Regions from separate parts of the Homo sapiens genome. Here all the other regions are reported to be linked to region 4. The links are microRNA targets in miRTarBase. Many come from high-throughput screens and were not tested one by one. Region 4 holds a microRNA gene; each other region holds the end of a gene's coding sequence.

Region 1 (6,177 bases), not on the chromosome of region 4:
TTTTCAGGCTAAAGTCACCATGGTGTACCTTCTTTATAAACTCTCAGGGGACTGATTTTTTTTTTCCTTTTTCTTCACCTTATACCAAGAGAGAAGGGGACTGAATTCTTTCAGCATTTCTGGATTGCCTTGTAATGAAGTAAATGAATCTGTTTTGGATCTTGGACTAAAAATATTAAAAATAATGTGTTACACTACAAAAGACACAGGCTTTTTGTCACATGGAGGCTTTTTGTCACATGGGTCTGGATCCTAATGCTAGGTGTGCCGCTTACTGATGACTTGTCCAAGTTACTTGTAAGCCTCATTTTCTTCAGGTACAAAATGAAAATAATGATATCTGCTTTACAGAATTATTACAAAGATTAGAATAAAATTAGCTGTATCTCTAATTTTAGCACATACTAGGCTTTCAATAAATTCTGCTGTTAGGTCTGTAATATCTTTAAATTTATTTAAGTGTAATATCTTTAAATTTTAAATACTTGGTGTTCCATCTTAAAATTTGGTCATTATAGTCTAGGTTTTCATTTTAATTTAATAATGGAAATACTCATCATGGAATCAGTTTGAAACCAGACAGATAAGGTAAAATATGTTAACCCATGGTAGCTAATGTCACTTGTTGCCTTAATCTTTAATACATAATACATATTAAGCTTCATAATTCTTTAAGTTGGATTATGCAGTAATTTGTGCTAATTCAGATGGTAGAATTGGTAAGAGGCTTTTAGAGCCTCTTGCTTATTGGGGTTGCAGAGGTATTTGTTGTTTGCATTTTTTTCTAATATACATAGCTATTCTGCATCTCTATTCTTGATCTTGGGTGGGAAGTATCATGAAGAAATTATGTCACCATTCTTAAATTTTAAAACTCATGAAGTTAATACAGTATTTTGAAAGTTTGATTAAAGTGAGCTGCTATCTAGTTTTCAAATGTTCCTACAGCAGAACCATTGTCTAGTTTTCGGTGGCAGTTGATTTATATTTGAGTCAGGGTTTTGGGTTTGTGAAATGCAAGTCTAGTGATGTGTGAGTTTTAAGTTCATTATTTTCCCCAGATTTTAATGAGGTTAGAATAATTTTATGTGTTTTCCTTTTTTTTTTTTTTTTAGACGGAGTCTTGCTTTGTCATCTGGGCTGGAGTGCAGTGGTGCAATCTTGGCTCACTGCAACCTCCACCTGCCAGGTTCAAGCGATTCTCCTGCCTCAGCCTCCTGAGTAGCTGCTACTACAGGCGTGCACCACTACGCCCAGCTAATTTTTGTATTTTTAGTACAGACGGGGTTTCACCATGTTGATTGGTAAAGATGGTCTTGATCTCCTGACCTCGTGATCTGCCCACCTAAGCCTCCCAAAGTGCTGGGATTACAGACGTGAGCCACTGTGCGCGGCCCTGCTTATTTTTTAATATAAATGTAATAAAGACAATTTGGAAAATTATTTCTAAACTTTTTTCATGGACAAAATCTTTAGGTTTTTATACTTCGTTGAAGGGGGCTTTATTTTAAATATCCTGTAATTTCCAGTGATTCAGAGATACAGTAATTGCCCCCTCTTTTTTTAAGTTAAAAACAATACACAACATTTCAGTGTCAAGTGGTCCATTAGTAGTCTCTTGACTTACACACAGAAAGCCTGTCTGTATTTTTTGTACTCATTGGTTAGAAACTACAGCACATTATTTTTCTTCAAGCTGTATTTTATGTAGAGGAAAAACAGTTGGTATATCTGTGTTGATGTTGATTCATATATATTGGGTATTTTATTTATTTTTATAGTAAAATGTATTTTGACAAATGTAAAATGAAAAGGGGAAGATATCTAAATTCTTGAATTTGTTTTTATAGGAGTTCCATCTGGAATATGACAAATTAGAAGAACGGCCTCACCTGCCATCCACCTTCAACTACAACCCTGCTCAGCAAGCCTTCTAAAAAAAAAAAAAAAAAAAAAAAAAGACTTCCCTTTTCTTGGGGTATGGCTGTCTCAGCACAATACTCAACATAACTGCAGAACTGATGTGGCTCAGGCACCCTGGTTTTAATTCCTTGAGGATCTGGCAATTGGCTTACGCAAAAGGTCACCATTTGAGGTCCTGCCTTACTAATTATGTGCTGCCCAACAACTAAATTTGTAATTTGTTTTTCTCTAGTTTGAGCAGGGTCTGAATTTTTTCATTTATTTCCTTTTTTGCCAGCAGACAGACTTGAGTCTGTAAAGACAAGCAAATACACTGACAGAAGTTTACCATAGTTTCTAAAATGTAAAAAAGAAAACCCCCAAAAGACTCAAGAAAATTAGACCACAAATTTTGCATTGTTCATTGTAGCACTATTGGTAATAAAATAACAAATGTTTGTGCATTTTTATGTGAAGATCCTTCTCGTATTTCATTTGGAAAGATGAGCAAGAGGTCTGCTTCCTTCATTTTACTTCCCCTTCTGTTTTTGAAAGGCAGTTTCGCCAAGCTTAATGCAAGAATATCTGACTGTTTAGAAGAAAGATATTGCCACAATCTCTGGATGGTTTTCCAGGGTTGTGTTATTACTGAGCTTCATCTTTCCAGAATGAGCAAAACACTGTCCAGTCTTTGTTACGATTTTGTAATAAATGTGTACATTTTTTTTAAATTTTTGGACATCACATGAATAAAGGTATGTATGTACGAATGTGTATATATTATATATATGACATCTATTTTGGAAAATGTTTGCCCTGCTGTACCTCATTTTTAGGAGGTGTGCATGGATGCAATATATGAAAATGGGACATTCTGGAACTGCTGGTCAGGGGACTTTGTCGCCCTGTGCACTAAAAGGGCCAGATTTTCAGCAGCCAAGGACATCCATACCCAAGTGAATGTGATGGGACTTAAAAGAAGTGAACTGAGACAATTCACTCTGGCTGTTTGAACAGCAGCGTTTCATAGGAAGAGAAAAAAAGATCAATCTTGTATTTTCTGACCACATAAAGGCTTCTTCTCTTTGTAATAAAGTAGAAAAGCTCTCCTCACTGCAGTGTTGGCTTTGATTTGAAATTGCGAAATTATTTCTTCAACATGAAAAATAGAGGAAACAAACTGAAGTTTTACAGATATCAAACTGAATGGTGTGACTCAAATGTCTTTTTCAGCTTCCAACAAGTAATTTAATGGAAATATAGTGAACCGTTTCACTTGTAGGTTAAAAATGTAGACAGTATTAATCAGAGAAAACTTTTTTAAATGGGTTGTGGCAGCATTAGAAATAAAACATTCTGAATACTCTTGGAACCCAACCAAAGTACTTCTGTGAAAAATTTATGAGAAATTTCTTGATAGACCTTTAAATTTATCTTTAAGAAGTAATGTGCAAATGAAGGTAAGCCATAAGGTGGGAATGGGTAGACTTTACCTTCAGTTTGCTGGCCTAGATATCTCATATTTACAAGTTAGTGGATTCTTTTCCCATCTAAATACAAATACTGTATTTTAAAAATCAGAAGATTGAAGCTTCCAAAGCAGAACTAGAGAGTAGAAAAAAGGCAATGAGTTTTGATCCTTTAAATTTTCATTTTTAACCTATTTTTCTATGAAGAGTAAAAGTCTGTTGGCATTAACCAAATCTTTTGAAAATGAAACATTTATGACATTGCTGTGTTTGTGTACCAGGAATATAAAGTGGCTTAAAATTTACCTTTTTCTATGCATTTTGAGATATGAGAAACACTATAAAAAACAGGATTTTCTATCTTTCATAATTAAACCAAAGCATCTCCTCAGTAAGAAAGATAGCACTATATAAATCATTTTATCTATTGTGCACAAACCTTCACAGAACACTATACCTTATTTGACATAAACCAGAGTCAAAGCATAGAAATCAATCTAGAAAAAAAAAGATTACATTTTTCCTAGTAATTCACTTTGTAAAATAAAATGTAATTTTTCCTACATAACCACAAAAAACAAGTAGGAAGAAAAATGTGGAAGGGGATCTTTATTCTCATGAATATAAACAACAATATAGATTGAAGTCTCAGCTGAAGCGTGATCATGACTGGTACTGATGAATGACTCCGAAAAATAAGATAGCTCATACCAAGTGGTTTGTTGTCTTGGCTGTAATCTTTTTTTCTCTTTTTTTGTTAACTGCCATATACAGAGTTTTAAATGCACACTTTTCCATTTTTTTGAGTTCTTTTTATCCTGAATCATCAAAATGAAGAAACTCTTGCATGTTAGCCAACTTTTTATAACTTGTTAATATCAGAAATTACCATGCTATGGACTTCAAAATACAAATTACTCTATTTGAAATATTTAAAACACTACTTTGAACTTTTTAAATGTAACAGTTATAATACGCCTTGATTTTATAACGTGGTTATACATGTAAAGAGGCTGAATCCAACTAATTATATTTCACATTTTCTTTCAAAGCTTTAATTCTGTTAATTTCCCCCTATATAGCTAGTGAAATAGATGTGTACACTATGTTAAATAAATTTTTTAGATTAAACTATGATTGGCTTTCTGGGAATAAAAGCTATTTAATTGCAAAGGGAAATCCTTTATTTGGTTTCAAATATAATTATTTAGGTGGTATTATAATTTATATGCTAAAGCTCTATTTTCAGAGACTTAACTACACAAATAGTTTTCCTTAGATATAATACATTTTAAGAACTGAAAGTTTATGTTAATTCTTAAAGTATATATAACTAGTCTGTTTCTTTTTGACACTGAAATTGGGACAAAGCAGGTGCTTGATAGTTGTTGACTGATAAAAGTTGATATTTCAATTTGAAAATAAAGTATAAAGCATTGGGCTTTGAGATAGCTTACTCAATTATCATTTGCTATAATTTCATTTTCACAATAATCTTTTTAAGCATTTTCAATAACTTTTAAATATTTCAAATTTTTCCAGTCTATAGCTTCTCTAATTGATAAATCCTCTTCTATTCACAAGCCATAGATCTTCCACTTTGTTATATCCATTGCTCATAAAATATGTGGCATCTGAGCATGGCTGTACAGTAGGACTCATTTCATTTAACTTAGATTTAATAGCTCAATTTTGCAAAAAGTTGCTGAAAACCTATACGTGTGTGGAAACAGGATTGTATAATACATTAACCATGGTTTGTCTATGTAGTTAATAAGATCTAGAAATATCTACTAACTAGGTTCCATTGAGATAGTCTCTGGAGAATGAACTAAGCCAGACATTGAGATGCCTTTACTTTCTAAAAGTTGGATCCTAATGGCAGGTCACAAGGCTGTCTCCTTGCCACTGGCATTACCAGTGACTTTGATTATACCATGAATACATGACAGATCTGGAAGATGAAGCAAATAAACTCACTGAAGGTTAAAATTGGGATCTAAATCTAACCAAGTAGTTTGGTGTGTAGAGTTGAATCAAATAGGATACATTCAATCAAGAAAATTACTTAGTTTTGCACTTTGATTGTTAATAAAGAATGGTGGAATATAACATGATTTGAGTGGTTCATATATAGATCAGTAAGAATTGTGATCCTGTTGCCAAAAATACTAATGTAATCTTCAGCTACATTAAGAAAAATATAGCACTCAGAAAAAGATAGGAAGCCCACTCTACTGGAAGTAATCACTCATCTGAAATGTCATCTTCTGTTTGAATGCTGTATTAGAAGAGCTGCCATGCCTGGGGAAGGCAGAAGGGGATGGAGAAGTAGCATGCCTTCTAGCTGCCTGGCAAATGCTGTGTGTTTTTATATACATTGTTGTCTGAAGAATAGCATCATGAGGTGAAATTTAGTGTTCCCATTTTAGAGTAAATTTTAAAAACAAATAGGAATACAATTTTGGAAACATGGTATTTGTCTTCAGGTATCAAATTCAAGAGCTGTCAATGAAAGGCAATTAAGCTCATTCTTGTGACTGGAAGAGCAGAACTAGGACAAATAAGGGATTTCAGTGCAATATTAAAAAGTAACTGAGTTAATTCAGATTTTTAAATCAGTTGCTTTGTAAGGCGTTAGATTTAACTTCATAGGACATAACCTAGGAGAGACTGGCTGGATAGTGTTCTGTGCATAAGGTAAGGAGTTGAATGTCTTAATGTTCCTGTGGCTCATTGAAAAAGTGTTAAAGTAAGTGAGATAATTACTGTATTTCAGCAAATCTAATTGCCATCAATTGTAAGG
Region 2 (5,899 bases), not on the chromosome of region 4:
CTTATCTTTTAGATATGGAAGATTGGAAATGATTTTTTTTTTCAAACTCAATTTGCTTAGTACCTTAATACTTCACCATTTTGCCACACCTTTGTCAACCACTTTGAGTGAGATGATAGAATTTTCTTTGGTAGCCTTTAAAGATTAAGCTCATAGATGAAGAAAAGATACGTGTGACTTGATTGAAAGTTGAGTTAAAACTAGAGAACTGCCAAAAATAATTTCCCTTTTATGTTGCATTATAAAGTGGAGTTATTCCTTTTTTCATCCTTTCATATATTAAAAGAGTGAGATGGAAGTGGTTTTACGATAATACTGTAGCTGGATTTACTGTCATCTTTAGTCCAAACTGATCCTAGGCAGGCTGAAATCCTGGGGGAGTCTGGATAACTCTGAGACCAAAAAAGCAGTGTCAAAAGCCACAGCCTAGAGGTCAAAAGTATGAATTTAAGTATCAGATAGTTTTCAGATAGTTTAACTCAAAGCTCAACCTGCTAGGAATGGCCTTGGACAATTAAGCTTTATTCTCCAATTCCTAATATGTAAGTAAGTAAACTATTATCTACTCTACAGGACAGTTATGAGGCTTAAATGAAGAAACAGATTTCAAGCACTTAGCATGGGGCTTAGTATAGAGAACAACTGACCAGTATTAGCAGTTAGTATCATAATTGATTTTCTTTTTCAGACCTGCACCTTACAGTGGGTACTGGTTCCCACAGTCAGAGCAGATTCCCTGACCACTTCCTTTCCTTTCCTTTGAAGTTAGAAGTAAGGGAGCCATGGGAAAAAGCACCACCTCATGCCTAGAGAACCATTTCCCGTCTGCCTCTGGCCCCTCACGCAAGACTGTCTATGTAAGCTCAGGGGCTTTTCTTCTTCTTAAGATCTCCCAACCAAGTTCAAAGATTTAGCCTTCCAAATAATATGAGCTATAGTCACAGTTTATGATGTCATGTTTGCTGCAATGCTTTGTTGTAGTTGCTGAAATATTCACAGCCTCAGTCAGTGCTTAGATCTTAAAAGAATTATAAGGGGAAGTCAAACTCCATTCTTCAGTAAAATGCAGCAGAACAACTAGAAGCAGTCCCATTGGGCAATAAAAAGTTTAAAAAATGCATCTATCTTTAGACCATTAGGCTTACAAAGTCAATCTAGATTCTTTGATTTTACTAGGTAGGACTCTATCTTATTGAGACATTTTAAAAGTAAGCTAGAACAGCCACATTTTAATCTATGTACAACTCTAGCCATGAATTTCTAAAATTGCATTGGAGTACAATACTGTGTTATTGTATTGCCTAAAATCCGAGATGCCATTGAAATTTTTTTTTTTACATTCTAGCAATTAGGAAGTTTTATGGTCAATGTGTAAATTTATGTTGTAGTGGTTCTTTTTCTTTAAAAACTGATCTTCAACCAATAGTGTATCTTGTAACTAATGGAGTCTTAGACTCACGGAAATATAGAATTCTAAAATCATATTGCTTTCTCATGATGTTACCTAAGGTGATTAGTCTGACTTTGTGGTAACTTAATGATTGGCAAAAAGAACAATTTGAATATATAAGAAAGATAATCCAAAAGGCTTCATTATGTTTGATAATACCTATGCACAGGTGCATAGGAGAGCCATCTCTCTGGTTAATATTTGAACTTTTCCCTAGCTGCTTGGGAGGCTGAGGTGGGAGGATCACCTGAGCCCAGGAGGTTGAGGCTGCAGTGAGCCATGATCACACCACTGTACTGCAGCCTGGGTGACAGAGGGAGCCCCTGTCTCAAAAAATATATATATTTTGACTTTTTAATGTTTCAACATCACTTTAAAGGTCTCTCATATTTCTTCAAAAATGCAGTATCATATTTGTGATAGTAAAATATCCAAAGAAGAGCAAAAAGCCTCCTCCCCCTAGCTCCCAGAATCTCCTTTTGTCACTTTTAGTGCACCTCCTTCTTTTGAGAACCCCTGTGAATAGCTAGGGTGGCAGCCATACCTATCACTATCAGTCTATAGGATTGTACTTTGATGTGCTACTATACACCATGCAAAACTCAACATATACAGTGCAATGCTGGGCCACATAACAGTTATTTTAAAAAAATACCTTCTGGCTCACTGACGTGAACTTTAAACAAAATTTCTAATTAGTCATGCACATAGCTTTAAACAGTTGGAAAAACACAAATTTCTAAAAGTGTTACCTTTTTCCTTTTATCTTACTAAAAATCCTTTGAGTTAATTTTGGGACTTTTACACAAATAAAAGCAACCATCAATAAATCAAACCCTGAAAATTCTTTTTCCCTAAAATAACTTTAAAGGGTATAACTCTTTTTCTATTTTGGTAGCAAACATGAGAATTACCACATCTGATGGTGGAATACCACCTTCACAGAACACTTGGATGGGAGATGGCAACCTCCGGTGGTCAGGTTAATATAAACAGTGAGATGTGATGCTACAAGTTGATCATATGAAACATTGATCATAATTAACTTGAAATGATTGAATTACTGACAACGATTATCTTTAGGAACACTTTCTTATTAACTATGTTGCAAGTTCATTTGCAAATATTTTAGTCAGTGGAATTGAAAAATAATAATCTGGCTGGGCATGAAGGCTCATGCCTATAATCCCAGCACTTTGGGAGGCTGAAGCAGATGGATGAATTGAGCGCAGGAGGTCAAGAGCAGCCTGGGCAATATACTAGGGCCCTGTCTCTACAAAAAATACAAAAATTAGCCGAGTGTGCTGGTGCATGCCTGTGGTCCCAGCTACTCGTGAGGCTGAGGTTGGAGGATCACCTGCACCTCGGAGGTCAAGGCTGCAGTGAGCCATGATCACACCACTGCATTTCAGCCTGGGTGACAGAGTGAGCAGAGTGAGACCCTGTCTTGAAAAAGAAAAAAAAAAAAGAAAAAAGAAAAATAATAATACATATATAACCTGCAATAAAAAATGTAAGAAAAAACAAAAAGTAAAAGAAAGGGAGGGAAGGAGGAAGGAAAGGAATTTATCTTAAAATATTTAATTCAAATAAATTTTAAATTCCTGATCTCTAAAAGTTTACATTTCAAAAAAGGAAAAGAAGTTCTCTGAATGCTGACATTACAATAGGAATACATTCAGGTTTTAGATCTTAAAGTAAAAATTATATGGCTGTTGTCCACAAATCATGATTATAAAGCAAACACCTAAGACAACGAAATCAATTTTCTTATTTGCTACCTCATTCTATTAGAGCCAGCTGGAAAATATAAGAACCACAAGGCTTATAGACACAAGAAACAAGGTGATTTGCTTTTGCCTCCCCTCGACCTTTTCATTACCCACTTACAGACAGAAATTAAACTACTTGCTGGATTTTTCAAAACCAGAATATAAAAGCCCTCCTTTTTCCTTTGAACAAATTGATAAGCATAATAAAAATCACTTTCATTCTTTTTATGTTGTTTGGCCCAATAGCTTCAGGAGCTCTATGATGGTTTATTTAGGCCTCACTGAAGCAGAGGCAATACCCATACAATCTCCACAGCAACAAAAGAAATTGTCATTGAAGCACAAGGGATTTATCATTAGGACGTATGTACACGCCTATCATGTATGTATGTGATGTTTTTAAAACACTCTACAAATGTTTTTGAATTACAACATGTATGACATGTTCTAGCTTATTATCCTATATTTGGTATACCATTTGGAAGTCTTGAATTTGCACTTTGCCAAGAACTGTAGTTAAGAATAAAAGGCAGAGGAAACTGATTATTTCTTGCCTCCAAGTATCTTACTGCCTATGCTTAGTTTACAAGCTCAGATAAATGTTATTTTCAGGCAAGCTGTGAATTATATCAAATGATTTTGAAAGACATAAAGAAAAGCCATAGCTTGGATCGTTAGTAAATAAAGACCTCTTGAAATTCATGTTGACTTTCCACATAGAAAGTGGAAGGAAACTTTTCTGCAAAGCAACTCATCCACATAAAAAATAGTCAAAAAGGACTTCATTTAATTAGTGGTATGTAAAGACTCTTGCATAGAAAAAGGTTACAAAGTAATGCAAAAAAGACTAGGTACAGTAATTTCAAAACAAATATTTAAAAGTATAATTTTGCATAACGTTTAACATTCTCATAATGTTTATTGCTTTCTCCACACAGTAGAGAAATGAAGTGCATAATACATGCTGTGTCTCTTATCTTTTAAACAAAAACTCTCACGTGCTTGATTTCAGCATATTAAGAGATTATTTTGTCATTAAACGAAATCGAAAAAAACAAAACCACAACCCCATTACATAGCACTAGTTTAGGCATGGGCAAAAATAACTTATGTACATCCCATTGCATACATTCATCTTGTTTTGGGATCAAATGCAATCACTAACTTGACAAAGAGCTTTAAAAATTGTAGCTTTTCTCTTCCTAGTGCTCCCTCCTTGCTTCATCACCTCCAGAAATGTAACTTCTCCCAAAGGGTGACAAGAATAGATGTTGCATCATTAGGAGAAAATGAAGAGGATAAATATATAAAAATAGTCCTAATGAAACTGAATAAATTAAACCAAACTCCTACAAACTGGAGAGTTTTCAAGTTGGCATGAATTAAATAGCCTCTGGTGGACACATGGTAGGCAACTGCTCATAGGTGCACTATATAAATGTAAGGTTTATATAAAGCAGCACCATATTTTGAGCCATCCAAAAAAAAAAGTGCCTGGGGGCCTGCAGGCAGAGCAGAAATGCTTGTTAATCTGAGAACTGATGAAATAATTGCTTATACCAATGCACTGCTAAATGTCACCTCTTGGCATGTCTGTACAAAGAAGGCAAACTAAGATAAAACTAGATCTTTCAACTTGAAAATTATTTTCAGCAGTCATTTTGACCAGTAAAACCTGTTGGTTTCAGCAGAATACTCTTCTCTGGCATGGTATTAAAATGTCTGCAGCCTATTGCAAGACTTCTGTCCCTTTCCTTTCTTAACCTATCCTCCACACTCGTCTTCCCTTGTGCAATGTTATATATCCAGAAGAAAACTTCCTAAGCTCAGGCACTTACGAAACACGACTCTCTCACTCTCTCTCTATATATGTATGTCCCATCTAGTCTCAAGAGAATTCAGTCAGGGCATTTTACTTCCCCAATTCAGACATACTGATGCACTGCTGGATGGTACGGTCCATATATTTTCCAGGAAACTTCTAAATGGTAACAAGTGTGAAGTTTTCAAAAGTTGCTGATGTCAGTTACCGAGCTGCCTTGAACCAAACAAAAAAGGGAGAGAAAAAAAAGAGAATACCACATTTCCACTCGTGAGGTTTGTGTCTCAAATAGCTTTATTGTTCCTTTGTGGATCTGTCGGCATCTGTATGGCTACCTTCAGGGTGCAGAGGTTTTAAGCTGACTCTGAAATGGAGGACATTCAGTTACTATTGCAAGAAGTTCAAGAAAAATTTAAAAAGCTCCAACTTCTGTCCCCCAGGGTCGGTAAGGTTTATTGTTTGTTCCACTGCTGGTCTGCTGAGGACTGGACGTGGCTGATACTGACAAGGGCGGGCTGATGGCTGTGGCCGCGGCCACTGCTGCTGCTGCGTTTGGGGGAAGCATGGGGAATGCCCCCGCGAAGGACAGAGGGAAGCTGTGTGCAGCCGCGGTGGCTGCTGCGGCTGCGGCGTGGACGGTGGCAGAGAGGGACAAGAGAGAGGTGGAGAGAGGTGGCACGCAGGGGGCGACGCTGCCCGTGGATGGCATTCGGAGGGCTGAATCCGCATGGGCAAACGTGGCCGTGAGGAGAGCAGAGCCGTGGGCAGGAGGCACTTCTGAAGTTGTGGAGAGGCGACAAGGGGTTGACTCTGAGGCATGGAGGCCGTTGGGCTGGAGCAGGGCTGCGGGCAGGT
Region 3 (6,177 bases), not on the chromosome of region 4:
AACAGTCTGCCGGGCGGGGCTTCCGGAGACTGAGGGGCTTCTGTTCGGGAACTCCACTTCCCGCAGGCCAATGGGCTGAGGCTGCGCGCTTTGAGGCTGCTCCTGAGGAGGGCGCATGCGCTCTGGTGAGGCGTTAGTAAGACGCGTCCTGGACTGTGGGGAGGAGGCACGTGAGGAGCTTGGGGCGCGATAGGCACCTCCTGGGGTGTCACGACCTGAGTGCGCAGAAAAAGCACGTCAGGTGACTGGACAGTGAGGAGGAGTGCCTGTTTGCCCGCTTATAGGTGAAACCCCATCACCCCATCACTGTAGGTGGGTCCCAGCTGGGCATCTTTGTGATGTCATGGGAGATGTTGACACCGTGAGGCGTGTGATTGTGCCTATGGATTTATGCAGTAGCAGGAGCTGCTGTGGCTGATGGGCGTGTCTCCATGGCATGGGTTCTGCCACTGCCTCTTCTCTCACCTCACAACGCAGGGCTGCCACGTGTTCCCAACAGCAAGAGGAGTTTGGGGATCCATAAAGACGTTTCCCAGCATGAAGACACAGAGCTGAGCTTGAGATGAGAACTTTGGAGCTGGAAGTGGCCTCAGGAAAGGCCCTAGAAAACAAGATGCGGATGCCCCTTGTCTGAAGACAGGATCAGGATGCTCCCAGGCAGGATATTCCTGGGAAGAAGTGTAGGGTCCCCGTTTTATGTTTCAGAACCACAGCATTCCCAAAGATCAGATGGGAAGAACCTGGTGTAAACTCAAAGACAGATTCTGGAAGACCTCCTTCTTCTCTCCTGTTATGTGCGTGAGATAAAGTCAGGTATGGCCCTTGTGGGTGTTTCAAAACTTCAGACTGGGTTTCAAACAGGGTCTGACGAGGCACAAGTCCTTGTCAACCAGCCCTACATTTCCTCCAGAGAATTCCAAGATGGTGGGGGAAGTCTTGTTTTTTTATTTTTATTTTTTGAGACAGTCTTGCTCTGTCACCCAAGCTGGAGTGCAGTGGCACGATCATGGCTCCTCAAGGCCTCAAGTGATCCTCCTGCTTCAGCCTGCCAAGTAGCTGGGACCACAGACGTGCACCACCCCGCCTGGCTCACTTTTTAATTTTTTGGTAGAGTTGAGGTCTCGCTATGTTGCCCAGACTGGTGTCTAGCTCCTGACTTCAAGTGATCCTCTTGCCTCAGTCTCCCAAAATGTTGAGATTACAGGCATGAGTCACCGCGCCCAGCTAGGGAAAAGTCTTATTGCGAACTTACATGTCAAGTTTCAGGAATGTTTTGTATTCCTTTTTTTTTGAGACAGGGTCTTGCTCTGTCGCCCAGTGTAGAGTGCAGTGCATGATCATAGTTCACTGCAGCCTCAACCTCCTGGCCACAAGCAATCCTCCCGCCTCAGCTTCCCAAAGTGCTGGGATTATAGGCATGAGCCACTGCACCTGGTCTTGAGTTCTTTAATAAACTGAAAGCATTTTTATTGTTTAACTTTAAAATATACATACAACAAAATTTGCTATTTTAAGAGTAGCCTTATGAGTTTTTGCAAATGCTTGTTTTCACCACTACAATCATGACAGAACACTCTTAAGCCCATATGTACTCAAATCCCCTACTTCTAACCAGCGATTTGTTCGTTTCCCTTATCTTTGCCTTTTCCATGTCTTATAAAAGGAATACCATATAGCCTTAGGAGTCTTTGTAAAATTTGATGCCCTATTTGTAAAATTAATTATACTTGCTTTCCAGTGTTCTAAATTTAAGTCTTGACAATGCCCAATATAGGTTAAGCACAGGTTAAGCCTTCAAACTTGATTCCATCATCATGAGCTACATGAATATACAAGACTCTGTTGTCCCCGTGCTTAACTTTTTTCATCTAAGAGGGAATGATGGGTAAGTGGGTGTTAAGAAATACAAGTGACTGCCAAATCACATTCATCTATAGAGCGTTATGAAAACTTATGTTAACATGGAAAGTAATGGAGATTACTGGATATTGTTTGCTCTTTAATAAAACTCTAAGGTGTTACATGTTTTTCCTCTTCCCTAGTTAATTCTGGAAGTTCAGAGGTTGAAATGATACCTGAGAAAACTTAAATAGGCTTTTGGGGCTTTCTGGCTCATTAAAACAAAAGCTTCTGCCTCCTTGGCCTATAAAACACATGAAAAATTTTCTCGTTTGAGGATGTCAAACATGTCTTCTTTTTTTCCGGAACTCACCTCTAAACCACAAAAACCATCAAACATTCCCCTCTTCTCCCCCATATGACTGGCTGCTGTGGCTTTACTGATTAGTTTTCAGCTCCAATTAACTTCTGCTTTGTAGATGAGAACTTTGGGAGTTCCCAGAGAATTATATTCATGACCTGAGAACATCCAATCCAGACCAAAGCCTGGCTTCCTTGAACGCTCACCAAAATCACAGAACACAAGGCCAAATCTGATAGTAAATCCTTTTAAACACCCTCTGATACAAGCCACAGCCCTTTCTTGATCATGTGTTCAAACTTCAACTCAACACAGCAAATTTTCTTTGACTACCAGTGTGATCCTGGTGGTTTCTGGGTAGAGGGCCTTGACAAAACCATTATTTCCGCTTTTTAATTGTTATTAACCACAAATAAGAAATCATTTTAGGCCGGGTGTGGTGGCTCATGCCTGTAATCCCAACACTTTGGGAGGCCAAGGTGGGCAGATCACCTGAGGTCAGGAGTTCAAGACCAGCCTGGCCAACATGGTGAAACCCCATCTCTACCAAAAATAAAAAAATTAGCTGGGTGTGGTGGTGCATGCCTGTAATCCCAACTACTCGGGAGGCTGAGGCAGGAGAATCAACTGAACCTGGGAGATGAAGGTTGCAGTGAGCTAAGGTCGTGCCACTGCACTCCAGCCTGGGTGACAGAGCGAGACTCTGTCTCAAAAAAAAAAAATCATTTTAATGGCAAATGTTAAGTATACAGCAATTAAAAATAACATTTATATGAAAAAATACCTGTATTTGTATATACTTGGTAATACTGATTCAAAATGTAACATGCTTAAATTATCAAAATTACAAAGTTGATTTGAAATCTGTAATTCTCTCGGTAAACAAAAAATAACATTTCTTAGTGTTATGGGTTGAATTGGGTCTCCTAAAATTTTTACGTTGAAATCTTAATTCGCGGTGCCTCAGTATGCGAAAAGAGAGCTGTTGCCAATGTAATTAGTTAAGGTAAAATCATACTGAAGTAGAGTGGGGCCTAACCCAATGAGTGGTGTGTATGTATAAAAATATTGTCACATGGAGAGACACACACACAGGGAGAATGCCATGTGAAAATTAGAGTTATGCTGCCACAAGCTAAGGAACTACCAGAAGCTAGGTGAGTTCTGAAACAGATCCTTCCCTAGCATCTTCAGAAAAAGCATGGTCCTGCCAATGCCTTGTTTCTGGATTTCTGGGTCCAGAACTGAGAAACAAAAAGTTTGTTTTCCTATGTCACCCAGTTTTTGTACTTTGTTATGGCAGCCCTGGGAAATTAATATAGTCTCTAAACAACTAATTTGAAAGCACAGTAAATAGGATTTTTTTTTCTTTTCTTGCTTGTGTGATGGAGTCTTTCCCCGTCTCCCAGGCTGGAGTGCAGTGGTGTGATCTTGGCTCACTGCAACCTCCGCCTCCTAGGTTCAAGCACTTCTCCTGTCTCAGCCTCCCAAGTAGCTGGGGTTACAGGTACTCACCACCATGCCTGGCTAATTTTTGTGTTTTTAGTAGAGACAGGGTTTCACCATGTTAACCAGGCTGGTCTCAAACTCCTGACCTCAAGCCTCCCAAAGTGCAGGGATTACAGGCATGAGCTACTGTGCCCAGCTAAACAGGATATTTCTAAGAAATATCTACAGAAGGTTTTCCTTGAAACAAAATCCACATTATTTTTAATGATACATAATCAAACCTAATAATTTAACCTATATCAAGAAACTGCATTTAGTTCTGAGTAACAGAAATCTCCCTAAATCTAATATATGAGGAAGGTATTTGTTCTCACATAGGACTCGGCAGGCACACTTAAAAATGCAATAGGGTACAAAGTCCCATGTGTTGTTTTTCTTCTTTGACTGCAACACTGTGGCTTTCGTGGTGGAATCAGGATCACAGAGCCACTGGAAGTATTAAGATAACAAGGTGTTCACTATATAAATTAGACCCCATGCAAATATGTTAAGATCTACAGAACGGGAGAATCAGAAGCTCAGAGACTGCCAAACAAGACAGTCTGAATCAGTGGTCAAGAGGTCATGCAGGGTTTTGAGAAAAATCCAGACTCTAGGTGACTGACCACACAGGAATATCCCTAATATCAAGTTAATGGAGATGTCTGAGGAAGACTACACCTCTGACACAGTGGAAATCAAGCACTTAAGTGTTTCTTTTGATGGTACTCTTGATTGGCAGGAATAAGAATCTGGAAAATAAGCTGAAGGTTGATGTTCACAAAGCCCCTATGCATCTGTCCATCTCCATTTAATGTGACCCCAAAAGCTCAGCGATGACTTACTTCTTCTTCATTCTAAATTTCATTCAAGTTATTGCTATTGGTAAATTTGGACATGGAACCATAAAGGAAATGCATTCCAGCAAATGAAGTTCCTAACACTACCCACACTGACAACAATGCAGAAGAACTATCTGCAACTCTGGATTTCTCCGTCACATCACAAGTCAAAGCCTACTGTCCAATTCACAATCACAAGCAAAGACAAACAGCAATGGGCAAACATTAAAAATTACAATTCATTTGAGGCTATACTCCTTAAACAACTTTGCATAATTACAAAATTCTGCCAACTACTTCTTAAAAAATGGAATAAGGCTCCTCTGGCCAAACAATAAAAATACTCCCAGTAAAAAAGGTGGAAAATATAATAGATACGTAATATCCAATACCTGTCACACTAAGTCAGTTACAATTTAAGAAATTAAATAAAACTTGAACCTACTTGCATATTAAAAATACACTTCAAATCATCCATGAGTCCAAAACACTCTAAGATGAAAGTTTTATTTACTGAATCGTAAGAAACTACCTGTTCAAATTCATGTAGGATAGCTGAGAGTATTTGGAGAATTATTTTTCAACTAAATGTTTATTTGCAAATGAACTACAGACACACTCCTTGAGTGTCCACTTTCAGGATAAGGAACTCATAAAGGCAACACCATATTTACAACTTTGATCAGATCTCTCTCCTGGTGTGACTTTTCTGAAGCACTGCACATGAATTCATTTGCAGGAGGATGTCCTACATTACACTTATACTGTTTTTCTGTAGTGTGTATTCTCACATGTCGCCTTAAGGATGAGGAACAATTGAATGCTTTCCCACAATGCTTACATTGATAAGGTTTCTCTCCAGTGTGCAGTCTCATATGTATTGGTAAAGATGATGGCCATTTGAAGACCTTCCCACATTCCTTACATTCATAGGGCTTCTCTACAGTGTGCGTTCTCACATGTTGTTGCAAAAGTTCAGGCCAACTGAAAGCTTTCCCACACTGCTTGCATTTATAGAGTTTCTCTGCGGTATGTCTTCTCATATGTTTTTGTAAGGATATGTGGCAATAGAAAGCTTTCCCACATAGCTTGCATTCATAGGATTTGTCTTCAGGGTGCATTCTCACATGTTCTCGAAAGCAAGCAGACAAGCTGAAGGCTTTCCCACACTGCTTACATTCATAGGGTTTCTCTCTAGTATGTGTTCTCATATGTTTTCGTAAAGATATGGGCCAATTGAAAGTTTTCCCACATTGCTTGCACTCATAGGGTTTCTCTCCAGTGTGCACCCTCATGTGTCCTCGAAAGGAGGAGGGGTGACTGAATGCTTTCCCGCACTGGTTGCATTCATAGGGTTTCTCTCCACCATGAGTCCTTTCATGTCTTCGAAAGGACTGGGGATAAATGAAGGTCTTCCCACACTGTTTGCATTCGTAGGGTTTCTCTCCAGTGTGAATCCTTTCATGTCTTCGAAAGGACTGGAGATAAATGAAGGTTTTCCCACATTGTTTGCATTCGTAGGGTTTCTCTCCAGTGTGTGTTATCATGTGTCTTCGAAAAGCCGAAGAATAACTGAAGGCCTCCCCACATTCTTTACATTTATGTGGCTTCTCTCCAGTGTGTGAAATCATATGTCTTCGAAAAGTT
Region 4 (6,177 bases):
CAGTACAAAGAAACACAGTGTTTATCCTACTGTAAACACTGTTAATGCAGTTTTCTCTGAAGAATGCTTTGTGTCTTCTGAATTGGGGGACACCAGCAAGGCTTTTAGCCATAGGAACATAAGAAATTCTTGTGGTCACAGAGCAAAGGTAATCTTTCATCTTTTCTGTGTTATTTTTATTTTTATTTATTTTTGTTGTTGTTGTTTGTTTGTTTTTTAATTTTTTGATGGAGTCTTGCTCTGTCGCCCAGGCTGGAGTGAAGTGGCGTGATCTCGGCTCTCTGCAACCTCTGCCTCCCAGGTTCAAGCAATTCTCCTGGCTCAGACTCCTGAGTAGCTGGGATTACAGGCACGCATCACCACGACTGGCTAATTTTGTATTTTTAGTAGAGATGGGGTTTCACCATGTTGGCCAGGCTGGTAACGAACTCCTGACCTCAAGTGATCCGCCTGCCTTGGCCTCCGAAAGTGCTGGAATTACAGGTGTGAGCCACCGTGCCCGGCCTTTTCTCTGGTTTTGAAGATTTGTGTAGCATCACCATTCAGTCATTTCTAACTGAACAACAGGTGAGGAGTAGGAAACATAGTTTCATCCGTATACAGAATTTTGCCTGACTTCCTATGAAACAGAAATAGCATGAGCTTGACGTTTCTGTCTATTTTGACAGATCTGGAGAATGAACACAAAGTGGATAGCATAAATCTCTAATTTGACTACATTTAATGTCTAAGTCATTACTTTATTGCAAAGTACCATATGAATGAAAATTAATGTTTACTAAACAGATGAAAGGAAAATTCCCAAGTCCAATTTGCAGATCATATAGATGGTAAAAGAGGCCCCAGTTTAATGTATTAAGAGGATTCAGAAATCATTCTGAATATTAGTTGTTTAGTTGATTTTAACACATCATTCCATGCTTAAGACTGTTCAATGCCTTTCTATCTAAACTCCTTATCATTGCATACAACATGTTAATAATATGGTCCTAGGGTTTTCTCCCTAATCTCAGTCTTTAGAAATCATTTTGTCACAGTGGTTCACACTCACCTTAAAGTCATTTGTACTTGGTGTTCTCTCTGGAACACTAGTTTTCCATTTCTTCAAATGACTAGATCATCCTCATTCTTCAAGTCTCATGTCATATGTGACTGCTTGGAAGAGTTCCATCCTGATCATGCCATCCAAACTACTCACTCCCATTTCTTGTGTTGATCTGTTTTATCTTTCACAGCATTATTACTGTATACAATTTTCTTCTTTATTTGTTCTCTTCTTTATTATCTCCCTCTTTCTGCCCCATATTGTAAACTCCCTTGTAGACAGTTCCTCATCTGTCTTGTTCAGTTTGCTTTCTATTGAAGTAAGAATAATAAGTAATCAAAATAGCTACCATCCAGCTGCTCTATTGAATCTTAAATCTAGTCAGGGCTGTCGAATTGAACAGTGAGGTAGAGGCTCTTGGAAAGATTTCAAAGACACAGTAAGATGATGAAAAGATTAGAAAATAAAACCTATGAAGAGGAGAAAATGGTGACATGGGTTGCAGTATTAACTACCCCAGAATAATAATCCATTATATTTGCTCACTTCTTGCAGTTTACAGAACACTTTTGCATGTATGAACTCCGTTAGTATTTTACATGATATCTACATTTATGATTATCCCTGTTTTACAGGCATAGAAACGGAGGCTAGGGGAATTTAACTGACTTGTTCAAAGACAGATAGTTATAAGTTATTATTTATGTTTTCTCAGTTCTAAGGCCAATATTTTTTCCATGACACTACTTTTGGTTTAGTCTTCAAAGCAAATAATTTAATTTGGATGTGATGAACAAAGATGTTTAATATTAGGGATTATAAATTCTGATAAGTTATCCCAGTTGTTCCCAGATAAATTTGGAATTCCTTTTGAATAGATATTCATCTGTCTGGTATGGTTTGGAAGAGGGTAGAGGGTATGGCTAGAGGGTAAGAGACTACTTAGATATTGTCTCTTCAAGCTTTAAAATCCTATAATCTTTTGGCTAAGTTTTTGACTTTCAAAATTAATCATTTCAAATTTACTTAACATTTAAAATTTGATCAAATGATACCACCCTTTGAGCCTTCTATCACAACTGGACTTGGCTCTAGGATGTGCTCATTGCATGGGCTGTGTATAGTATTATTCAATACCCAGAGCATGCAGTGTGAACATAATAGAGATTGAAAGACAGCCAGAAGGGTAAAACATGAATTCTTAAAGAGTAATTTTGTACTTCATGTAGATTTTTTTAACTCTCCATTTTCAGCTGTTTACTAACTATGCTTCCAAATTCTATTCCACAACTGAAATTTTAAACTCACAACTTAAATTTGCATGTTGCTTCTATTATAATACATTTTTTATTCCTCTTTTATTTACATTAAAAATTTACTGAAATTTCACATGAATAGTCAAAGTTAGCTTTCAGTAGCAGTTAGAAGCATTCTTTTAATAGAACTATAAAAATACATTTGGAAGAACATTATTATGATCTTTCATCATGTTGAAATTTCTTTTGATGACACATCAGATGCTATTTACAGATGATAATTGAAATCTCCATAGTATAATTTTACCTCATGATGATATCAGTGAACATATCATCTTGTGATCAGCTAACTGGATGTTTCTTTAACCCATTTATTTAAAATTTCACATAATTTCCAGGTGTTTTCTTTTATAATGAGAATCTGTTACTTCAACAATTCTAAGTAGATCATATGTCTTTGATTTGAAATAGGAAAAAAAATTTCCTAGACTGTTAGAATGATTTTGTTTGGTTGGAAAGCTGCGTGATCTCTGCATATAATTCCAAGTATAAAATGTACTTGATGCAGTCCTGACTATATTCCTTATAATTAGAAAATTTATTTTTATTTTTTGCGTCTCCTTGCTTGTATCAGGAACCAAAACTAAACTTAGTCACCTAATAGCCAAATATTTAGAAGTACTTGTTAAGAGGCCTAGTCCAAAACATGAATAAGAAATGTTATAAGTGGAAGAAAAATAACAGAAGTTCACTTAAGTGAGAATATAAATGGAATAGAGGTGGGAAATGGATTTATATAGAAAGAAACATTTTAATACATGCTGATTAGAAATATTGCGGCATTTTCTGAAATATTATCAAACTGAAAATTATGGTCTAATAGTTTTAAAGAAAATATCATAACATATTCAACACATTGTGTTTCTCCATGCCTGGCATATAGCAGGTCCTCAATAAGTATTTGTTGAAAGAATAAATAAACCAACAAGTCTTATTTGAGCACCTGTTATGTGGAGGATACAATCCTACGACCCAGACAGACCTTATGATCTAGTATGGGAGAGAAGAAATATAAGGAGAATGCACAAGTGATCGCCATATCTGAAAGTCTGTGATAAGAATTAAAGAATTGGAAAAGGTTAGAGGAAGGCCAGATTATTTCTCATCTGGGAAACTTTTGGGGAGAAAAGAGGACTTGAGCTTGGGATTTAGTAAGAATCAAGTGCACAAAAGTATTTATTGTAGAAATTTGAGCGAATATATAAATATTATTAAATCATTATTATAAGACAGTCAATAAACTAAAACAAGAATTATATCATCAATAAATCTTGTTATAATCATCCATTCTTAACTTCATTTGCACATTACATTGATATAATATGAAATAGTCTAGGTTCCTGCAAGCCTCTTTGTCACTTAGCTTTTTTTTTCTTTACTACGTTATATAATTTATAGGCAGCGTATCCAAAATGTTTCAGTAATTACTCTGCCCATCATTTTATTCTTTGGGTTAAATTTCTAGCCTAAGTTATTAAAAATTAATTTAAATAATGAAAATAACTTCAGTTATGTCTAATTTAAAAATTCCTATTAAATATGTCAAATAATAGTTTATTTATTTTTAACCTTTTTCTTCCTGAGAAGATCAAAGATCTTAGCATATTTCTTTCTATTTCCTCCTAGGACATCTTTGTGAGGAGTAGTTGGTATCAGGAAAAGTTAATTTCATCAGGTTAGGGAGAGTGTTAGGAGAAAAGCAAACTGATTGTCCCACCCAAAATATTTATGCCTGTCTTGTAAGTGATATGCAGATCACTTTGACTCTAAGCTAGTTTTCTCATCCCCTTTTCATGCAACTTGCTTCTTACTGACTTTGCCATTTATCAGACAGAACCTTATTATGTGCATTCTCCTCCTATTTTCCCTCCTCTCCCTCCTGTTTCTCCTTGTTCATCTTTCTTCTTTATTAAGTGTACAAGGATTATGCAGGCTTTGTTCACCATTCTATATCTAGCTACAAACACTTTCTATAGGGTTGAATTGGAATCCATATAAATGTTTGCTGAATAAAGTAATAGCCACCCGCTTTGGAAAAGTCAGCCCATTTAAATATACTAATCTAAGAAAATCAGTATAGGAAGATTAATCTGACTTCTGAATGTACATAGTGCATACTAAAATAAAATGTGGTCAGCTTTTATTTTATTCACTCTTTTGCAATATTTCTGCTACTACGCTGCAGAACCTTGTCTGTCTCATACTCCTTCAGCACTTATTAGGTGTGTAATCTTGAGCCAGTGAATTAACCTTCCTGAGCCTTTAGATATAATACGAGACTAATAATATCTTGTCTATCTGAAGACAGTAAAATGGATTAGAAAGTCTATTGATCCAACTTATGATAAATGAAGATGTGAATAAAATTTTTAAAAATTGATTTATGAAAATTATACTGTTTTCTGCTCTTTGCTTATTAGTTACTGTAACTAATTCCTCATGAGATTCCAAAACCCCTTAACTTAAAAAACAATAAAATAATAGATGTATGTGTGTATATGTGTATATATGTATATATACTCATATATATATAACATATATATCATATATATAATTTTTTCGCTAAAAACTCATGGTACCTACCTAGTAATGGTGATTATTATCATCAGTTAGAAGTGTGTAATTCATGAAATTTCTAAAAACAAATTCAAATCAAAAGCTTTGGTATGCATATTTAATGATATATTTTGAAGAGTTAAAGCTTACGTAACCATCACCAGTGTCCTTTCAATTGCCATAATTGTAGAATAATTTTTTATTGGTTGGCTGTTTTTCTTTTTTTTTTACTGGCACTGAAACTTTACCCCACATTGTTCTTTTATTCATTAACTAAAGTTGTACCCTAATACTTGGTTCTGTACTAGGAGCTGCAGATACAGCAATGAATAAGACACAATCCCTCCCTTCAAAGAGATAACATTTTATTGGGAGAAGTAGGCAATAGAGCAGACAATTAATATACTGTGTTGAAGTGCTATAGCAAGAATGAGCTCAGGATACATTGTGAACACATGAAAGTTCTCCGAACCCAGCTAGAAGGTAGAGGAGTCAGTCAGGGAAAGCTTCCTAGAGGAGGTGATGTCAGTATTGTATTTCTCCTGCCTATACATGTCCTTCCCAAGGAGGTTGAAATGCAAATTATTTAAACATTTAGTATCTAAGTGAGATATACAGTAAAAATTTATCATTTGGTTATACTGGCTACTTAATGTTTAGTACTAAATGAAACTACAAAACACATTACCAGGACTAGAGGTGGGGTAGAAAAGAAAAAAAAAAAAAGCCATACCAAGAATGAAGAGGCAGTTTTCACAAACCTGCCAAGTAAAGAATAAGGTATGATTAGGAATCAGATGCTTACTAGTAGACTTCCTGGAGACTAAGAATCAGAAGGCTGAATGGAATTTAGGTGACAATGCTGAAGATTTTTCTAAGAGGGTGATGTATTTAGGTTAAGTAACAAACATGACAGTTAATTTGAGTTGTGTGCTTTAGGTTGTTCATAGAACTGAGAAACTGGGATCAGACCAAGTTACCATGGCACTATTTCTGTTTTAAATGGTCTGGTAAACCACCTGTCTAATCTATTAGTCAAAATGTGCTGATATGTTGTAGTGATTACCTTATTATCTATTCCTAATAATACTCCTACAATGTGTTTTCAGCCCATATTGGAGTATGGCTAATGCACTATGTTAATATTCTTTTGCTAGATATGTTCATTTTAAAGTTGTCAATTACTTTTTGTTGTTCCTCAAGTTCTTGTGTATTTTTGGCACATGCCATTTAAGTGTATTTTTTTACTATATTTTATGA
Region 5 (6,177 bases), not on the chromosome of region 4:
AGACATCCAGAATTTCAGGAGGCTATGTCATTAACCAAAAGGTACCAAAAAGATTCAAAATCTGAATAAGCACACTCTTCTTTGTGCCTTTGGAAACGGAGTTCAGCTGGAATATGGAAAAGAGAGGAAATATTTTTTAACTCTATTTTTTTTCATGAGGAAAAAAAAGCTAGTGATTTACAGCCTATCTTGGGTTAAGAATCCAAGGTTTTCTTTACTAGGTCTGACTGGATGCTGGGGATGGTGTTAGAGCTGTCCAAAGGTGGCAGGACTGGTGGTAACTCTTCACGTATGTACATAAGCCTTGATATTCCATTTTGTGGCTGGTCCAAGGGGCAGCCTAACTCATCTTACAAGACGGACTCTAGGGACAGGTAGGTTGGATCCTCATTCCTGACAGTGCATTTGTCTGACACACGGGACTACCTCCCTAATGTATGCTTTTCTTTGAGAAAAAAAAAGTAACAGATTTTCTTTACATCTTGGCACCTTGTAAAGTTTTTTTTTTTTTATACAAAAGTTCAATAGTTTTGACACTCCCCATTGTTAATCACTACTTCACTGATAAACTTGGAAAAGTGTGACCCTGGAATTTCATCATGCAAAATATTTACTGCAGCAGGAGAAAACATTTTTTAAACAACATTTTTTTTTCTTTTCAAATGTATGAACTTGTTTAAGATAGCCAGGAAGGCAGTGGTAGGATAAACACAAGGGATAGGAATGTATCAAAAAACAGATTAACACACACGCACGCGCGCACACACACACACACACACACACAAAACCTGTACAAAATGCTCCAATCAATGAGAACAGAAAAAAGAAATCTTCAACTATGTTACAGTTTAAAAGCAGAAAAAAAAAGTTAGGGAGTTTCTCCCTCCCACATGTCAGGAAATGTCATCCAATATTCTTAAAGCAAGGATAACTAAATAAAATACATGTGCAGCATATTCTGCAATTCCGTTACATACAGTAGTTTTTTTTCCAAAGCTATTTTTTTTTAGTATCGTTAATATAAAGCAGTTGCACAAAAAGCAAAGGTGTTTTGACAAACAGGTGTATGCATTTATTCCTTTTTAGGAACAATATCTAAAAAAAGAACCGCCCTCTGCCCTCCCCCAAAAAAGACAAAGATTCACACAGACACATCGGGATATATGTACAACGTAATAAACCCCATCCTAAAGAAGCAACTGGGATAACCCCCAGGGGATACAGAATCAGAATTGTAAAAATCATAGTGAAGTTTGCTTGCTGTAAAGCCTGAGAATTTTTTTTTCAGTTGGTTCTTCTGCAAGGCTGTGATACCTGCAAAGATATGTAAAATCTAATTTTTCTTTTTTTTTTTTTTTTGCTACAGTCTTTAGACTAAGCATGCAAGACATACGACTAAGTGCAACTGAGTGAAATGTTTTTTTTTTAAATTTTAATCATTCCCTAAAGGTTTGAACTGAGGTATGCGTACTAACAGTTTCTCATGCTGTTATCTTTACTCATGTCTAGCTACACATGCTGAGAATGAACTAATCTACCAGATTTTTATCCTCTTTTGAATACCAAACTAACCAGCAACCACTCAGTTTAGAAGCACAGGGCCCCCTTCCCATGACCCTGTCTGGCTACTGCCTGCACATCATGAAGCTGCCTGGAAAAGTTTTTTTTTTTTTTTTTTTTTTTTTTTTTTTTTTTTTTTTTAAAGTCTTGCGTGACCACAGACTGCCCTTTATACAGAAAGCAGAGTGAAGCTTCAAAAGTAACTGCCAGAGAAGTTTTTGTACCAAGCTTATGAGTGGATGGGAGTGTTACTTTTCTTTAAATGAAAAATGCTGACCAAAGCCTAATCGGAAAAAAAGGAAAAATTAAAAATAAAAACAAACTGAAGGATATATGCCAAGATAAACCAAAATTAATACAGTGATCACAGCACAGTTCTTAAACAAAAGTGGCATACAATCTAAAAATATCTCTTTTTCTAGAAATACTATTATGTAATCTAGTTCAATTATGGAAGCTTTTCTGTCCTGACTCTAAACTGTCTCCTTTATTGGATACTCTAATTGCAGTGGCATACATTCATTTTTTTTTTGAGATGGGACTCCCTTCCTTCTGTAGCTCCTTTAATATTGTGTCCTATTTTTATCTGCAGTAGCCCCATAAAATCTCTTTAAGAGAATGAGTTTTGGTCTCTGTAGAGGTACACAAAAAGAAAAAGGAAAAATAACTACTAGAAAAAAGTAACAACTTTGGTTCCATTATCTACTTGGTCTTCTAAATTTACGATGAAGGAGCAGTTCTCTTTCTCAGGTTGCAATAGCCTATCGCTTGTCATTTGCCTCTAAATTCTTTTGCCTCCTTTGATCAACAATAAGAGGATATTTGGCTTCATCAGATAAAGCATAAAACAGAGAACATAATTTACCTTTGTGTAATATCTTTGGTAATTTTAGAAAAAAGGTACAAAGAAAGAATATAAATTAAGCTTCGAAAGGCTCTCGAACTAAAAAAAACTACAGTCCTATATAAATAAATGACAGGAAAGTGGGTGCAGAGCTGAAGTGTGGAGGGGTTCTAAGGACTGAGGTTGTACTGACCTGTAACCATCACATTTCTGCATACCATGTTTGGGACCCCCCCAAAGCCCAGGGCCTACATGATATCTTCTATGAGTTTTTGTGATACTGGGTTGGTGATATAATATTGCATAACAAACTGCAGTACCAAATTTGCATATTTGAAATTAACACTTTAGCATTTGCTGAACTCAGCCCTCGTTAACTCCCTTAACAAGTTCAATCTGAAATCGAATTTGCATTCAAACAGTTTAATGCCACCAAGTAGGTCTGAACTAATGTATAAACTCAGCGCCGCCGCCGCCACCCCTACTTTCAGGGCAGCTGCTCGGGGAAGCCGGTTTTTTTTTTTGGCCATTTTGCAAACAAAACCAACCCACACCCGTTATCGCAGAGCACCCAAGGCCCATGGCAACTTGGTTCCACAAGGGAGAGCCTTCCAAGGCCATATTGTCAGTCTAATTAATATGAGCTTTTTTTTTTTTTTCAGTGCTGCCTATGTTTCCTTGTGCTGGTAGAATGTGGTGGCATTTATTAATGGTTGCTGCAAAAAAAAAAAAAGAAAAGAAAAGAAAAAAAGAAAATCCGAAACACCCCTCCCCCGAACCACCCCCAATACTGCTGCGTGGAATGAATCGGCATTGTTCCTAGAGTTTGTCTCTCTTTTTTTTTTCTGTCATTCATTCTCTTTCTGGCAGGACGTCACGTCTGTGTGAGAGGGCCTTCATGTGTAGAGTGCAGCATTTGGGACCTTTTTGAAAAAGACCAAAACGGAATGTTTTCTGACTTTAGAGAAACGTGGTGATGTCTGAAGGAAGATGGAATGAGTGACAGAAAGCTACAAACGAGAAATGACATTCAGCTTTGTATAATAAAAACACCTATTAACATTCATCACAAGGTACAGAAAACTTTAAGCCTCCAAGAGGCCATCGGCCCAAATGGAGGCCTGAGGTCAGAACTTAAAATGGTATAGTAGAAGGAAAAAAAAAAAAAAAAAAAGCAATACATTAAAAAGTTTGGGATAATTATTTTTTAACCCCTCCCCCCAATACACACACAAAGGCCTTCCCCATCCCAACTGGAAGCAAAAAAAAAAAAAAAAAAAAAAAAAAAAAAGGAGTAAAGGCAGTGATAATCAACATGCAGTACTGTGCAAATAGGTCGTCCATTGGAATCCTTAAATTCTGGGCAAAGGCTTGGTCTGCAGCTTAGGTGCACAAGCTCTGTCGGGCGTCCTCAGTGTCCAACGTTGGCAGGACTGCAGTTCAAAGTCTGCTGCTAAAAGTGAATCAGTTTAGCAAATTTACAACACTGATGTTGACGGTTAAGAGAGGAAAATCCCAAGTACCAAACAAGTCCATCCAATGCACAGAGTACAAATTCCTTTTTTCAACAAAAAGTAGAAAAATCAAAAATACTCCCAAATGGGGTTCTTGATGGCACTAAGAGTTAACACATTTCAGAGTTGTCAAAACGTAGTGAAAATCCTCCAGACTGTACAACAAATGGAGAACAATTTCACTGCTAACTTTTGACGTGTTTTTTTTTTTTTCCTTTTTCCAATCTTCATTCTCGGGGTTGGCCCGCCCCGATAGTCACTCCATGTCCTCGTTTACTGGTTCATCTTCGTAATCTCTGTCATGGTCAAAATCTGGACTGTGGTTGGCTGTTGTCACTAAGGACAGGGGCCCTTCAGCTTCCTCTGGATCGAGGGGCTCTTCTTTGACGTGTACAGGATGCCTGGAAAAAATATGCAGAGGTTCAGTGAGGGTACTTCCCAGCCCATTGCAGCTCAGGTGCACTGAAAAGTTTGGGGCAACAGAAAAGCCGCACTCTAGAACTAGAACTCTGTCCAGTATTGTTACCATTAGCCACACGTGGCTCTTTAAATTGAAATGAACGAAATCTTACTACATTTAATATTCAGTTTCTGAGTTGTGCTAGCCACATTTATGTTCAAAGGCCCCATGTGACTAGCGGTTAATTCTGGCCAGCACAGAGACAGACGGAACATTTGCATCACTGCGTAAAGTTCTCTTGGGTAGTGATGCTCTGAATCACTAGTCTCTGGACTGGTGTGGGCCTCTCCTCCCTGGTGGCATTTCTCATACTTTAACACACGCTGCAGTCACCTGTGGGCCTTGTTGAAATGCAGTGTGTGATTCAGGTCTGGGGTGGGGCCTGAGACTCTGCATCTCTAACAAGCCCCCAAGTGATGCCGGTGGTCCTAGAACCACACTGAGTACCAGATAACAGGTCCCGTAGTGGCATCCTGGGTGGATGAATACCCATCTTCAAATAATTACACGAAATAAGAATCTGTAATGCAACGGCAGTTTGTGGGGACCACTGAGCAGAGGAGGCTGGGCTAATCATGGCTTGCTGTGTGTTCTGCTTTGCTAGTTAACATGCAGAACCTGTGAAAGAACTCTCCAGAGGACGACCCCAAGCGAGGTTCTATCATTAATCAACTTCAAGCAAACACAGCAAAGAGACACCATGATATACATGCTTGAAACTCCAAATTAATGCATATTTTTACAAACTGTCAATAAGGCAAGAAAAGCCCTGCCAGGAAACACAAACGTAGAGGAAAAGGCTCGCTCAACACAACAATATGATAAGAAAGCAGAGCCCCAATCAGAATAATAACGCTGTCAGCTGTAAACAAGGCAAAACATGAGGCCCGGCTGGTAGCAGCCACTGGGATGAGCGTGGTTGCGATGAGGTCTGCCAACTTTCTCATTATGGACCAGCGCATGGTTCACCCAAAGGGGACTGGGGTGATCACACAAAACCGCTCGGATAACTATTGAGAAATGTTGTTCGTAAATCATATTTACAACTGATCCTTTGCATATACAAATGACTTTCTGTTGCAGGGGCTTTTGATATGTAAAAGAACCATTTGAGTTAAAATGGTCCCATCTCTGGGACAGGCTGCAGAAGGGAAGATTTTTAAATTGACGTTATCAAGTATTAGTAATAAGAGGTGGTAATGGGGATGGTTGGCTTCCTAAATAATTGATGCTGTATGCAAACCCCAAAGGCCCCTTGAACCATTTAAAAACAAACAGAGGAGTGCTTTGGACTGCCCTTGAAGACAGGAACCTTCAGAATCAATTGACTCTAAAATTAGCACAGCCTAGAGAGCATTTAGGGGGGCTAGATGTTACCTTTAAAAAAATAATTTTTTTTTTTTTTTTTTGAGACGGAGTCTTGCTCTGTCGCCCAGGCTGGAGTGCAGTGGCGTGATCTTGGCTCACTGCAAGCTCCGCCTCCCGGGTTCACGCCATTCTCCTGCCTCAGCCTCCTGAGTAAGCTGGGACTATAGGCACCTGCCACCGCGCCCGGCTAAATTTTTTTGTATTTTTAGTAGAGAAGAGGTTTCACCGTGGTCTCGATCTCCTGACCTCGTGATCCGCCCGCCTTGGCCTCCCAAAGTGCTGGGATTACAGGCGTGAGCCACTGCGCCCGGCTGCTAAAAAAATAATTTCTTTATTCTTAAAAACTTTGCAAAACAAAATGTAGCAAAGTTGCATTACATTACATTTTATGTATGGCTCTCCAGCTATTTTATTTATTTATTTATTTATTG

Evidence for each region. Region 4 holds the annotated microRNA hsa-miR-1264 (CAAGUCUUAUUUGAGCACCUGUU, at 3,287-3,309, shown strand). A microRNA usually pairs through its seed, bases 2 to 8, with sites in the 3' UTR of a target mRNA and lowers its output. Matches are read on the target gene's strand: a 7mer-m8 pairs with bases 2 to 8, a 7mer-A1 pairs with bases 2 to 7 and ends in A, and an 8mer does both.
Region 1: the mRNA of CNOT2 is a reported target of hsa-miR-1264. Seed matches in the 3' UTR shown: 7mer-m8 at 1,959-1,965.
Region 2: the mRNA of HEY2 is a reported target of hsa-miR-1264. The part of its 3' UTR that is shown has no 7-base or 8-base seed match.
Region 3: the mRNA of ZNF555 is a reported target of hsa-miR-1264. Seed matches in the 3' UTR shown: 8mer at 1,750-1,757, 7mer-m8 at 1,233-1,239 and 7mer-m8 at 932-938.
Region 5: the mRNA of FOXP1 is a reported target of hsa-miR-1264. Seed matches in the 3' UTR shown: 7mer-m8 at 1,703-1,709.

The regions. Positions count from the first base shown.
Region 1 is chr12:70,351,979-70,358,155 of GRCh38, forward strand. It overlaps CNOT2 (CCR4-NOT transcription complex subunit 2), which reads left to right. Exons shown (of 16, transcript NM_014515.7): 16 at 1,851-3,015. The coding sequence ends at 1,937. Among named protein-coding and RNA genes, the nearest start is that of KCNMB4, 11 kb to the right of the region's middle. RefSeq lists a silencer at 57-257.
Region 2 is chr6:125,759,360-125,765,258 of GRCh38, reverse strand. HEY2 (hes related family bHLH transcription factor with YRPW motif 2) reads right to left here. Exons shown (of 5, transcript NM_012259.3): 5 at 3,990-5,899. The coding sequence ends at 5,457. Among named protein-coding and RNA genes, the nearest start is that of HEY2, 13 kb to the right of the region's middle.
Region 3 is chr19:2,852,956-2,859,132 of GRCh38, reverse strand. ZNF555 (zinc finger protein 555) reads right to left here. Exons shown (of 4, transcript NM_152791.5): 4 at 1-6,177. The coding sequence ends at 5,181. Among named protein-coding and RNA genes, the nearest start is that of ZNF556, 11 kb to the left of the region's middle.
Region 4 is chrX:114,649,410-114,655,586 of GRCh38, forward strand. MIR1264 (microRNA 1264) reads left to right here and starts at 3,246; the gene lies at 3,246-3,314. The region is part of intron 2 of HTR2C (5-hydroxytryptamine receptor 2C); the gene reads left to right. It overlaps MIR1912 (microRNA 1912), which reads left to right and starts at 2,135; the gene lies at 2,135-2,214.
Region 5 is chr3:70,955,073-70,961,249 of GRCh38, forward strand. It overlaps FOXP1 (forkhead box P1), which reads right to left. Exons shown (of 21, transcript NM_001349338.3): 21 at 1-4,319. The coding sequence ends at 4,175. Among named protein-coding and RNA genes, the nearest start is that of FOXP1-AS1, 330 kb to the right of the region's middle.